Homo sapiens: one gene and its partner. The protein of the gene in region 1 purifies or fractionates together with the protein of each later gene. This does not show direct contact. Each region holds a gene or a part of one and is shown in the gene's direction. Other genes may lie near its edges. The genes, in order: NT5DC1 and PKLR.

What was found.
Region 2: the proteins of NT5DC1 (region 1) and PKLR purify together in Homo sapiens (affinity purification with mass spectrometry; 2 studies listed by BioGRID and IntAct, with this or other methods). This does not show direct contact.

What each region holds. Positions count from the first base shown.
Region 1 is NC_000006.12:116,095,646-116,103,858, forward strand, and holds the start of NT5DC1 (5'-nucleotidase domain-containing protein 1), read left to right. Parts: upstream 1-5,207; 5' UTR 5,208-5,285; coding exon 5,286-5,378; intron 5,379-8,213.
Region 2 is NC_000001.11:155,288,524-155,291,468, reverse strand, and holds the end of PKLR (pyruvate kinase PKLR), read left to right. Parts: intron 1-790; coding exon 791-897; 3' UTR 898-2,176; downstream 2,177-2,945. UniProt on the Homo sapiens protein: Pyruvate kinase that catalyzes the conversion of phosphoenolpyruvate to pyruvate with the synthesis of ATP, and which plays a key role in glycolysis.

The sequences.
Region 1 (8,213 bases):
GCAGGTTTATCTACTTCATGATCCTACTACCACACACTCTCAAAGGATTTCTCAAACAATTTGCAAGAAATAACAAAATCTATCCAGTAAGGATAGTAACTACAATCCCAAATAGACTCTTTGGCAGCAGTGACTCTCCAAAACTGCCAAGGCCTAGACCTCTTCACTGCTGAGAAAGGAGGACTTTGCAGCTTCTTAGGGGAAGAGTGTTGCTTTTACACTAACCAGTCAGGGACAGTATGAGATGCCGCCCAGCATTTATAGGAAAAGGCTTCTGATATCAGACAATGCCTTTCAAACTCTTATACCAACCTCTGGAATTGGGTGACATGACTTCTCCCCTTTCTAGGTCCCATGACAGCCATCTTGCCATTACTCGCCTTCAGGCCCTTTATTTTTAACCTCCTTGTCAAATTTGGTTCCTCTAGGATCACGGCCATCAAGCTACAGATGGTCTTACAAATGGAACCACAAATGAGCTCAACTAACAACTTCTACCGAGGACCCGTGGACAAACCCACTGGCCCTTTGACTGGCCTAAAGAGTTCCCCTCTAGAGGACAGTACAACTGTAGGGCCCCTTCTTTGCCCCTATCCCACAGGAAGTAGCTAGAATGGTCATCGCCCAATTCCCAACAGCAGTTGGGGTGTCCTGTTTAGAGGAGAGATTGAGAGGTGAAGCCAGCTGTACTTTGTGGGTCGAGTGGGGATTTTTTGTGTCTAGCTAAAGGATTGTAAATGTACCAATCAATACTCTGTGTCTAACTAAAGGATTGTAAATGCACTAATCAGCACTCTGTAAAAACACACCAATCAGCACTCTGTGTCTAGCTAAAAGACTGTAAACACGCCAATCAGCACTCTGTAAAAACGCACCAATCAGCACTCTGTGTCTACCTAAAGGATTGTAAATGTGCCAATCAGCACTCTGCAAAAATGCACCAATGAGCACTCTGTGTCTAGCTAAAGGATTGTAAATGCACCAATCAGCACTCTGTAAAATGGACCAATCAGCACTCTATAAAATGGACCAATCAGCGCTCTGTAAAATGGACCAATCAGCAGGACGTGTGCAGGGACAAATAAGGGAATAAAAGCTGTCCACTCCAGCCAGCAGCGGCAACCCACTCAGGTCCTCTTCCATGCTGTGGAAGCTTTGTTCTTTCGCTCTTCACAATAAATCTTGCTTCTGCTCACTCTTTGGGTCCATGCCACCTTTAAGAGCTGTAACACTCACCACAAAGGTCCACGGCTTCATTCTTAAAGTCAGTGAGACCAAGAACCCCCTGGAAGGAACCAACTACGGACACAAAAGGACTTTGTCCCATTACGTCCTCCCTCTCCATCATCGAAAATAAATTCACACACCAAAAAACCACAGTGAAATTTCTAAGTAGGCTTCTTCTTCTTGTGGTAAGAACAGAGTAGAAAATCAAGAGAGTAGAAAATGAAGTATTTTTTATTAAGAAATGTAAAGATTTTAAGATTACTAAAAAAAAATAAAAAATATTCCTCATGCAGGACTACTGCCATCTAAAGGCCTCAGCATAATATTACAAATAAGTATTTGGTTCTATGTAGCTAAATGTCTAATATTTAAGTGCCATAGAGTTTTATTTTTAGAAATTCATATTTTTCCTATTTTTTTCCAATTTAGTAAATGAACTTTTTTCTTACCCCTTAAAGAATTATATGTGCCACAGAAGATATGTAGATTGGCTTAGGTTATACAAAAAGTTGAACATACAATGTTTAATTAGGAATATTTAGAAAAGCATATTTTAAACTAATGAAAAAAGAAACAGGCCATTTCCCTCCTTCCCAAAAATGTATGGCAAATCATATTTACAATATAGATGTTAAAATAAAGTATTATAAATTCACAAAAGATCAGTTATTGAGATATTATAGAGTCTAAAGCTTAAGCTAGCTAATCACAAGTCACACCTAAGGTTAAAATTGCTAAATTATAGTACCACCTCAATTAAAAGCAGATCAATTGTAATAATGAAATTTAATTCTAGAAAATCGGCTGTAATATAACTTCCTGTTTCTGAATATTTCTAAATTATTACATAACTCATAAGTATAAGAAAAAACAGTACATGAAATACTAAAAACAAAAAAACTCTAAAACTTCACAGCATGGTATTAATGTTACACATAAGCAAAAGTACCCAACTTCAAGAAGTCAACAAATAACATAAACCCAAGTTCATGTCCTTTACAGACCTTTCAAATGGCAAATATTTCCTACATTTAACACAACACTGATTTGAGTCAATTATCCTTATTAACTGCCTTAGTTGGCTCAGCGTGCCTTAACAGAATACCACACAATGGGGTTTAGACAACAAAAAATTATTTTCTCACAGTTCTGGAGGCTCAAAGTCCAAGATCAAGGCGCTGTCAGGGTTGGTTTCTGGTGAAGCCACTCTCCTTGGCTTACAGACAGCTTTTTTTTTTTTTTTTTTTTTTTTTTTAAAAGACAGGGTCTCTCTCTGTCACCCAGGCTGGAGTGCGATGGCCTGATTCCAGCCCACTGCAACCTCTGCCTCCCAGGTTCAAGCGATCCTCCCACCCCAGCCCCTACAACAGCTAGGACTATAGGTGCCTGCCACCATACCCTGCTAATTTTTGTATTTTTTCTAGAGATGGGTCTCGCTATGTTGCCCAAGCTGGTCTTGAACTCCTTACCTCAAGCGATCTGCCTACTTTGGCCTCCCAAAGTGCTGGGATTACAGGTGTGTGCCACGACGCCAGGCAGACAGCCGTGGTTTTGTGGCTCCTCACATGGCCTTTCTTGTGTGCTTGAAAACTCTGGTGCCCCTTCCTCTTCTTACAAGAATGCTAATCCTGTTGGATTAGGGCTCCACCCTTATGGCCTTATTTAACATTAATTACTTCCTTAAAGGCCCTATGTCAAATATAAACACATTGTGGGTTAGGTCTTCAACACATGAATGAGTGGGGGACAAAATTCAGTCCATGATACTCAAAGAAACAGAAATTAATTGGTATCTAAGTAGAAGACTGAACTTGTAGTTGATAATACAAGAGCTGTGGCATTTTATCAGTAAGTGTGATAAAAGTTTAATGTGCAGGGAAAATGAAATATCTTTATCCAAAAATAAGCCTTATGAAACAATTAAACTGAGTGTTTGTATTTAAACTCAGGGTTATGTAGGGAATGGGAGAAGAGAAGGGAACCATCCCCTATATTTCTGGAAGAGTCAGACTGAGGTTTGAGGTACAAAGGAAAGGTGAGTGGGGCTCAAGAAAGAGTACAAGCCTCTAGGATTGGATCATTTGCAAAATTCTCCCACAAAGTTTAAATGATGTGGACTCTCTAGCACAAGAACTGTTTGTGCAAACATGCAGAATATATATAATTTGTTAATCAGCAAGTACATAAGATTGTTGATGTGCATGTAATAGCCAGATCCAGTCCCAGGACCACTTGGTTATCGACCCAGGGGTCTTTTTCTCTTTAAGAGTGCCCTGGTTCCCTCTCTCCCCTTACCCCAAGTCAATTTCCTGTTCACAATTCAGCACACTCAAGAGGTTTTGTAAGGAGAAGTTTTTGCTAAGTCAACAAAAAACAATCCTTTTATACTCTTCCCTCTTACAATGAATGTACTAGTACATTTGTATTACTAAGGGAAGTCCCTAAAGTACCTAAAGCACCTACTCCCACATGAAACAAGATATTCCCCAAGGAAACATGTGCCCTTCAATGTGGCATGCACCTGGAAGTTTGACTTTGGTAGCATTCTATTGCAAGGTGCAGAGGAGAATGCCAAGGTCAATGCTCCAGGGCCAACAAGCTTTTTCCAGCCTCTCCAACAATCCAGCCTTTTCTCTTTTGGTTCACAGACATTGAAAACATGATTGTTGGACTCATCAGTGAACAGCTTAATCTTCTTGAAGATTCTTTACTTTTCCTATTCCAGAGAGATTTGTTTGGGGCTTTTAAGTGTTATAATGGAACAAGTTATCAATTTTATTCAAATGGGTCTACTAGGTATAAGTGTCCTCCTACTCAATTGTACTATCTATTGCACTAAATTAATCCTCTGATTGGTCTATTAGCCTCAGAAGGATTAGTATTTGAAAGGGTTAAATGCAGTTCTCAATCAATTATATTTTCATTATGTCACGACTATTGATTTGTCCCATTAGACACATTGTTCCTTTAAATTGAGAACTGAAGCAGTGTAAACATAATAGATTTGTATTTTCTTTTTAAAATGAGGTACTATGTAATAAAGATCTCAAAGTGCTAGTCCTTCACATCCGGAAATCAGGAAGAGAATTAAATGCCCTAAGGCATACATTGTATGTAATGGATTAACTTTCTCTGCATCTAAAATGGTAGTAGTTATACAGTTCTTGAGAGAATTAAGCAAATGTCACTCAAAACATTTTGTGCTCTATAAACCTTAAACCCGGTTTGCAAAAGTTTTTTGTAGTATGCTCTATATATTTCTATGAAGTTTCTGATGCCCTTTCATAAAAAATTCATTACAATAACAAAATAGGATTATCAAGTAATAACCAATATTGGTTTCCATAACAAGTATCATCTTGCAAAATGGTTCTTCACGATGTCTGATACATTTATTTTCTAACGCACTCCAGGGTATGAAATAGTGAAAGGTCTGTCTTCCACTTAACCACTTAGGAAACCAAGGAATATAAAGTTTTTGGTTTAAACCACTATCAAAGATCACGTGGGTGAAAAGACCTTCCAAATTGTAGGCTAACTGGGTCAGAGGGATATTAGCGGATGAATTTTTTCTATGATCTTACTATTCCTCACACAGGGGTAAAAGGTCAGGTCTAACCTCATGATCTCCTGGTTTCCGAGGCGCCCTGAGGCGATGGAGTGTCCCGGTTAATTTTGTGGTAGCCCTCGGGAAAGGCTACGTGCCTACAGGTCTCAGCTGTGCAGCAGCGGCACCGCTCCTGGACCCCTACTGCCTTCTGGGCTCCTAGGCTTGCGGAACAGATCAGGAGTCGCCGGCATTGGGGTACCAGGAGGACGCGAGCTGACTACCTGACTCCGGGCGGCGCAGGACGCCCGCCGCGCGAGGGGCGGGGGCTAAGCGTATCGAGGGGCGGTGCTCGAGGGCGCGGGAGGCGGGAGAGGCTGCCGCGCCGTGTGCCCTGGCAGCCGCAGCCCCGCCCCGCCGCGTCCGGCCCGGTCCTGTCCCGCAGCGTCCCGCCAGCCAGCTCCTTGCACCCTTCGCGGCCGAGGCGCTCCCTGGTGCTCCCCGCGCAGCCATGGCTCAGCACTTCTCCCTGGCCGCCTGCGACGTGGTCGGATTCGACCTGGACCACACTCTGTGTCGCTACAACCTGCCCGAGAGCGCCCCGGTGAGTGGCGCGGGCTCCGGGGCGCACTGCGCGCAACCTCCATGGCGGCTGGGGCTTGAGTTTCCTCCAGGTTTGGGCAACGGCGGACGCTGCCCGGGGCCTGCGGCGGCCGAGTCTTGCCGCAGAGCGCGGCCTCCAGCGGCGAGAAGGGGCGGAAGTGTGCAGCCTCCGCTCCGCGCCGGTGCCGTGGGGACCGGCACATTTACCTCAGCCATTAGCTAATGTTGAGAGGGATAGGGAAGAACGAAGGAGGGGCAAACTGCGCAAGACCGGGCTGGGGAATCGGTGATTTCTAGGGCCGAGGAGGGGCGGGGTCAGGGGGACTAGGGCTGTCCTTGAAGATCTCACGTCGTGGAACTTTCTCTGCATGTCTTTCTGGACACCAGCTGATTGTGGACACAGCCACTTGATTTGGTACTTGCATTTTTTTTGGCTGCATTTTTCTGTTTGCACGATCAACCACCCATCAGTGTTTAAACTGCAATCTGGGAGAGATGCGTAGTATATAGTGTAGTGTATTGAAAGGAACACTAGTTGAAAAGTCATTAAGATCTTAGCCCTAGTTTTACCTTCTATCAAGAGAAGAAAATACATATTTATTGCGCATCGACTACGTGCTCCGTGCACTTTGAATACATTCCAGTCCTACCAACAGTCTGCGAAGTTTGGGTCCTCACTGTGCCCTGAGGGAGGGGGACATGGAGTATGCATGCTTCCAGACCTGTACACTCAAATTAATTGCCCTCCCTCCACTATTCCTTTGGTTTCCCAATTCCCAAGGAAACTAATTTTGAAAAGTTACCAGATTTTTTTAGTCCAAGATCTAAGCATCCAGACAGAAAAAGAGCTGGTTATGAGTACAGTGGTGAAAGCGAGGACTCCTCAGCCAGACTGCCTAGCTTAGGACACCAGCTCCACTGTTACTAGCTCTGTGACTTCGAGGAAGTTACTTAACCTGTGCTGCTTCTCAGTTTCCCCATCTGTAAAATGGAGCTAATAATTGGATTTACCTCACAAGATTGTTGCAAGGATTAAATGAGTAAGAGATGTATAATGCTTAGAATAGTACCTTGGCAAAGACAAGTGTTTGCTTTTATGGTTACCACCCAAACTATTTGGAAACCTCACAGTTTATGGGTAGAACTCTAGATCACTGGTGCAGACATCAGCCAGGGTTGTGCCCCATTATGGGCACCCGCCAGTTCCTGCACCCACCAGTTCAGGTACACGTTAAAGGTCAAAAAAGAGTGGCTGCCCGAATTTCTCGTGTGTTTTCTATGCCCAGATGCTAAATTTTTTTTTAAATGTCCTTTTTCTGCTGTTACACTTTCCTGCTTTCTTACCTTACAGGTCTGGTTTCCTTAGTCACATTGAGAATTAAGAAGGCTTTTTTACTGCTTGATTCTTTGGCCACTGCTTCCCCTAGGTCTTTGATACATGTTTTCCTTCCCTCTGTGTCTTTCGAATCCTTCCTGGTTCACAGTTTTGTGTGTCTCCTCTTTAGTTACCTTCATTTGGAGGTAATATTGTTAAACCACTGTCATGTTAGAGCTAGTGTTGTCCATAGGTGATCATAAAATTTCAGAATATAAGATTCTCAAAGACAAGAGGTTTTTTTACTGCAAACCTGGAGAATAAGTGATGTTTAAAGCTTGAAAACAGTAACCTATTGAGTTTTGGATCATGTTTGGTGTGGAAATCTTTTTTATTTTAAGTCCCACAGTGTGCTGAGCACCATGCTAGAGCTGAGGATACAGAGATCAACACGCAGGCCTCCAGGCAGCCTTACACAGTAGGCAAAAATGCTGAAGAGTTAGTCTTGGTCCCTTGTGGTGGGTAGTATGACCTGGGTCTTGCTTCACGCTGCCAACAGTGCCTGGAGGGCCTCTTTGCTCTGCACAGAAGCTCTTCATCCCATCAGGCCTCATCTTAAACATCGTTCCCCTTAGGAAGTCTTTTTGGCCCTTAAAGTTTGCCCTTCCATTCTAAGCCCACCTTCAGTTTTCCACAAAACCCTTCATTCCTCATAGCACATGCTGCATGATATTAACACTTCCTGTTTACTTGTTGGACTTCCCCTAGAGCCCAGCGTGATGACTCCATCAGTATCTGTGACAGTTTCTTGTGTGTTCTGTGTGCCGAGCTTAGTGCTGGGCACATACTGGACTCAATAAATAGACTGAATAGATAATAGGTATTTTAATAACAGAATATGATACAGCCATGATTCTAATAAGCATGCTGCTTATATGAATGGATTTAATCCTTACAACGTCCCTGTGAGGTAGATATTATCACCACTGTTTAATCACTTAACAGTGATTTAGTCACTGTTAAGAGAGCATCAAGCAACGGGGCACAGAAGGAAAGTGTATCCAGGGCAACTAAGCGAGGTAGTCCGGCTGTGGATTTCTGCTTCTTCCCACCTTGCTGTCTGTATGGTGCCCGAAAACACAGAGGAAAGGCCGGGAGCTGGCAGGTGAGGAGGTGGAGAGGAGTGCTTCACCCAGAGGAGTTAGAGTAAAGGTCAGAACCTCGAGGTGAGCAACAGCACCGGGAACTGCTGGGTGCAAGCAAAAGGTGGCAAGTTGCAGGAGAAGATGGTGGAGAAGTCAGTGGGGGCTGCATCATGGAGAGCTGTGAGTGCGTCTCCTTTCAGTTTTGTAGGCATTTAACAACTGCACAGAGTTGTGCAAACACAGAACTGAGTGTGTCCCCCTCACATGAGGCCTCAGGAAAGGCATTCTAGAAGAGAGGATGACACATGGTTTCTCCTCTCTAAGGTTGCAGACTCAGAAGTCTGATACCAGTCAGTTAACGTAGATGTGTGAGTGG
Region 2 (2,945 bases), on another chromosome or scaffold:
GCTGGAGTGCAGGGGTACGATCTCGGCTCACTGCAATCTCTGCCTCCTGGGTTCAAGTGATTCTCCCACCTCAGCCTCCTGAGTAGCTGGGACTACAGGCATGCGCCACCACGCCTGGATAATTTTTGTATTTTTAGTAGAGACAGGGTTTCACCATGTTGGCCAGGATGGTCTCAATGTCTTGACCACGTGATCCGCCCGCCTCGGACTCCCAGAGTGCTGGGATTACAGGCGTCAGCCACCGTGCTGGCATCTCTTACACCTTTAATATACTGCAGTGGTCACATTCCCTGCATGCCACCCGTGGGACATACTTCACTGCCTCATTCCCTACAGGATGGCCTTGATGTGGTGAAAGGTGGTGGCTGGTTCTCGTTACAGGGCTGGCCTGGTCCCTCAATGACTAATTTTCTTTCTTTTCTTCTTTTATTATTATTATTATTATTATTATTATTATTATTATTATTATTATTATTATTTTGAGATGGAGTCTTGCTCTGTCCCCAGGCTGGAGTGCAGTGGTGTGATCTCGGCTCACTGCAACCTCTACCTCCTGAGTTCAAGCGATTCTCCTGCCTCAGCCTCCCTAGTAGCTGGGATTACAGGCATGCGCCACCACACCCAGCTAATTTTTGTATTTTCAGTAGAGACAAGGTTTCACCATGTTGGCCAGGCTGGTCTCAAACTCCTGACCTCAGGTGATCCTCCTGCCTTGGCTTCCCAAAGTGATGGGATTACAGGTGTGAGCCACCACACCTGTCCAATGATTTGTTTTCTTTCCCTCCCCCAGGAAAGCTCCGTGGCTTCCTCCGTGTTGGAGACCTGGTGATTGTGGTGACAGGCTGGCGACCTGGCTCCGGCTACACCAACATCATGCGGGTGCTAAGCATATCCTGAGACGCCCCTCCCTCCTCTGGCCCAGCCTACCCTTGTACCCCATCCCTTCCTCCCCAGTCTACGTTCTCCAGCCCACACCCCTCCAAAGCCCCACCTTTAAGTCCTCTCTTCTCTATTCCTGACCCTCCCTACCTGAGGCCTATCTGAGACTATAACTGTCATCTAGCCCCTTCGAGGTTGCCCCTTCCCCATCTCCATTTCACACAGGTCCTGAAAGTCTGTGTCCAATTATGCACTGGCCACCCAACAGCACCAATTGTACATTCCCTGCATCCAATCTGCTCAGCAGGCCCTAAGATGCCTTGAGTCTTTAATCCCAGTTTGGCTGGTTAATTCCATAACCCCAGGCATCCCATCCCTTGGGGTGGGGGAGAGGGGAGACAGGGCAATCTTGTCCACAGTCTCCCATTCTCATATGTAGCCCTCATGATAATCTGGGCATCTCGTGCCAGGGCAGGCTACCCCTTCATGGTGACTAACAGTTACATGAAAGTCCACGCTTTTGGGAAAACTGGGTGGGATGGATGCTGGGGAGAAGTGAGGGCTGGGCAGCTGATTTTGTCACTGTCTTCACAACCTCCGTGCTGGGCTTGTAGACCACTGTCCTGGCTGCTCTCATGCCTGCCTGATACCCTGCTTGGTCAAATCCCCGGCTGCTTCCTTCTGCACCCAGAAATTCCTTCCCACTCATGTTGTTCCCACACACAAACCAAGAGCCAAAAATGAGTGTGTCTATTTTATATTTAAACCCAGCTGTTTGGAAGCAATTATAAAACTTCTCCCACACACCAAGAACCCCAGAACTCCCCACCCAGAAGGAAAGGAGACTTAGGGTCCTGGTCCCACAGTCTTTAATGCTGTAGAGTAGGAGAGGGGACAGGCAGAGTGAGGGTGGTAAAGGACTACTCTTGTCCCTGAGAAGGCAGAGGTGCTGGCTGGCCTGCCCTTCCCCAGGCTTGGATACCTTGGGCCTTTCCCTTATTCCTGCACCAACAGCAAACTCAGAAGGAAAAAACAAAACAAAACTCTAAAGGTAAACGCGGTCCTTCTCCCTCTCTCATGTGGCTCCTCCTGCCCCTACCTGGGAGAAGGTTCAAGTATTGCGCTGATGGGTTTGGGCAAGGACCACAGAGGCTGGCATGGAGAGGCCCTGCCTCCTCCTACTCCTCCTGTCTCCTTACCTGAAAAGGAGGGGAGGGATGGATAAAGGAATGGGTAAACAAAATTAATTGGTAACACATAAAGTTAGTAAATGAATAAATACAATTAAATAAATGAATAAATAAACAAGCGAAGAAAAAAATATCACACAAGGATTCAGCCATTTGCCCCTCCACCGGGGGGGATCTAGGCTGGCATATTAATAAGGAGGTGCCAACTACCCCTTAACTTTTAGGGGGTCACGACTGGGGCAGAGGGTACAGGGAAGAGGAAGCTCGCAGTTTACAAAAAGATGGTCTACCACAGGACAGAGACTGCAGGGAACTTAGAAGTATGTTCCCACTCAGAGGGTAGACACAGAGTGTCCACAGGTGGCAGTGAGCGGGTAAAAGTGGATACCCACACTCAGGACCCAAGACATCTGCTGACAGCAATGGGGGCACAGGTGACTGGCAGTGCCTGGCTATGCTACAGGAACAGGAAGATAACCAGACCGGGCAGAACCTGCAGGATCATTGGCAGGGAAACAGAGACATCTAGTTACTTGGCAGTGATGGCAGTGGCAAGTACTTGTGCTTAGTAAAGGTGGGGTCATGGGCCTGGGCCTGCACCTGGCAGGACCATAGCCAAGGGAATATCCTTGTCAGAGGGTTTTGAGTCACTTCTACTTGGCAGTGGAGACATACAGCGCCTGGCATATTACCTTGAACATGGTAGCTGCTCAGTACACATGATGAACGGGTGAATGGATTATGATGGGACAAGCTACAGGATTCTTGAGCTGAGGACACAGAGACCGTCTTCATGGCAGTATGCGGAATGTCCGCACAGGGTCGACATTTCCATGGGGCAATGTTTCAGGTCCCCATGGCCTTCCCCAAGAGGCA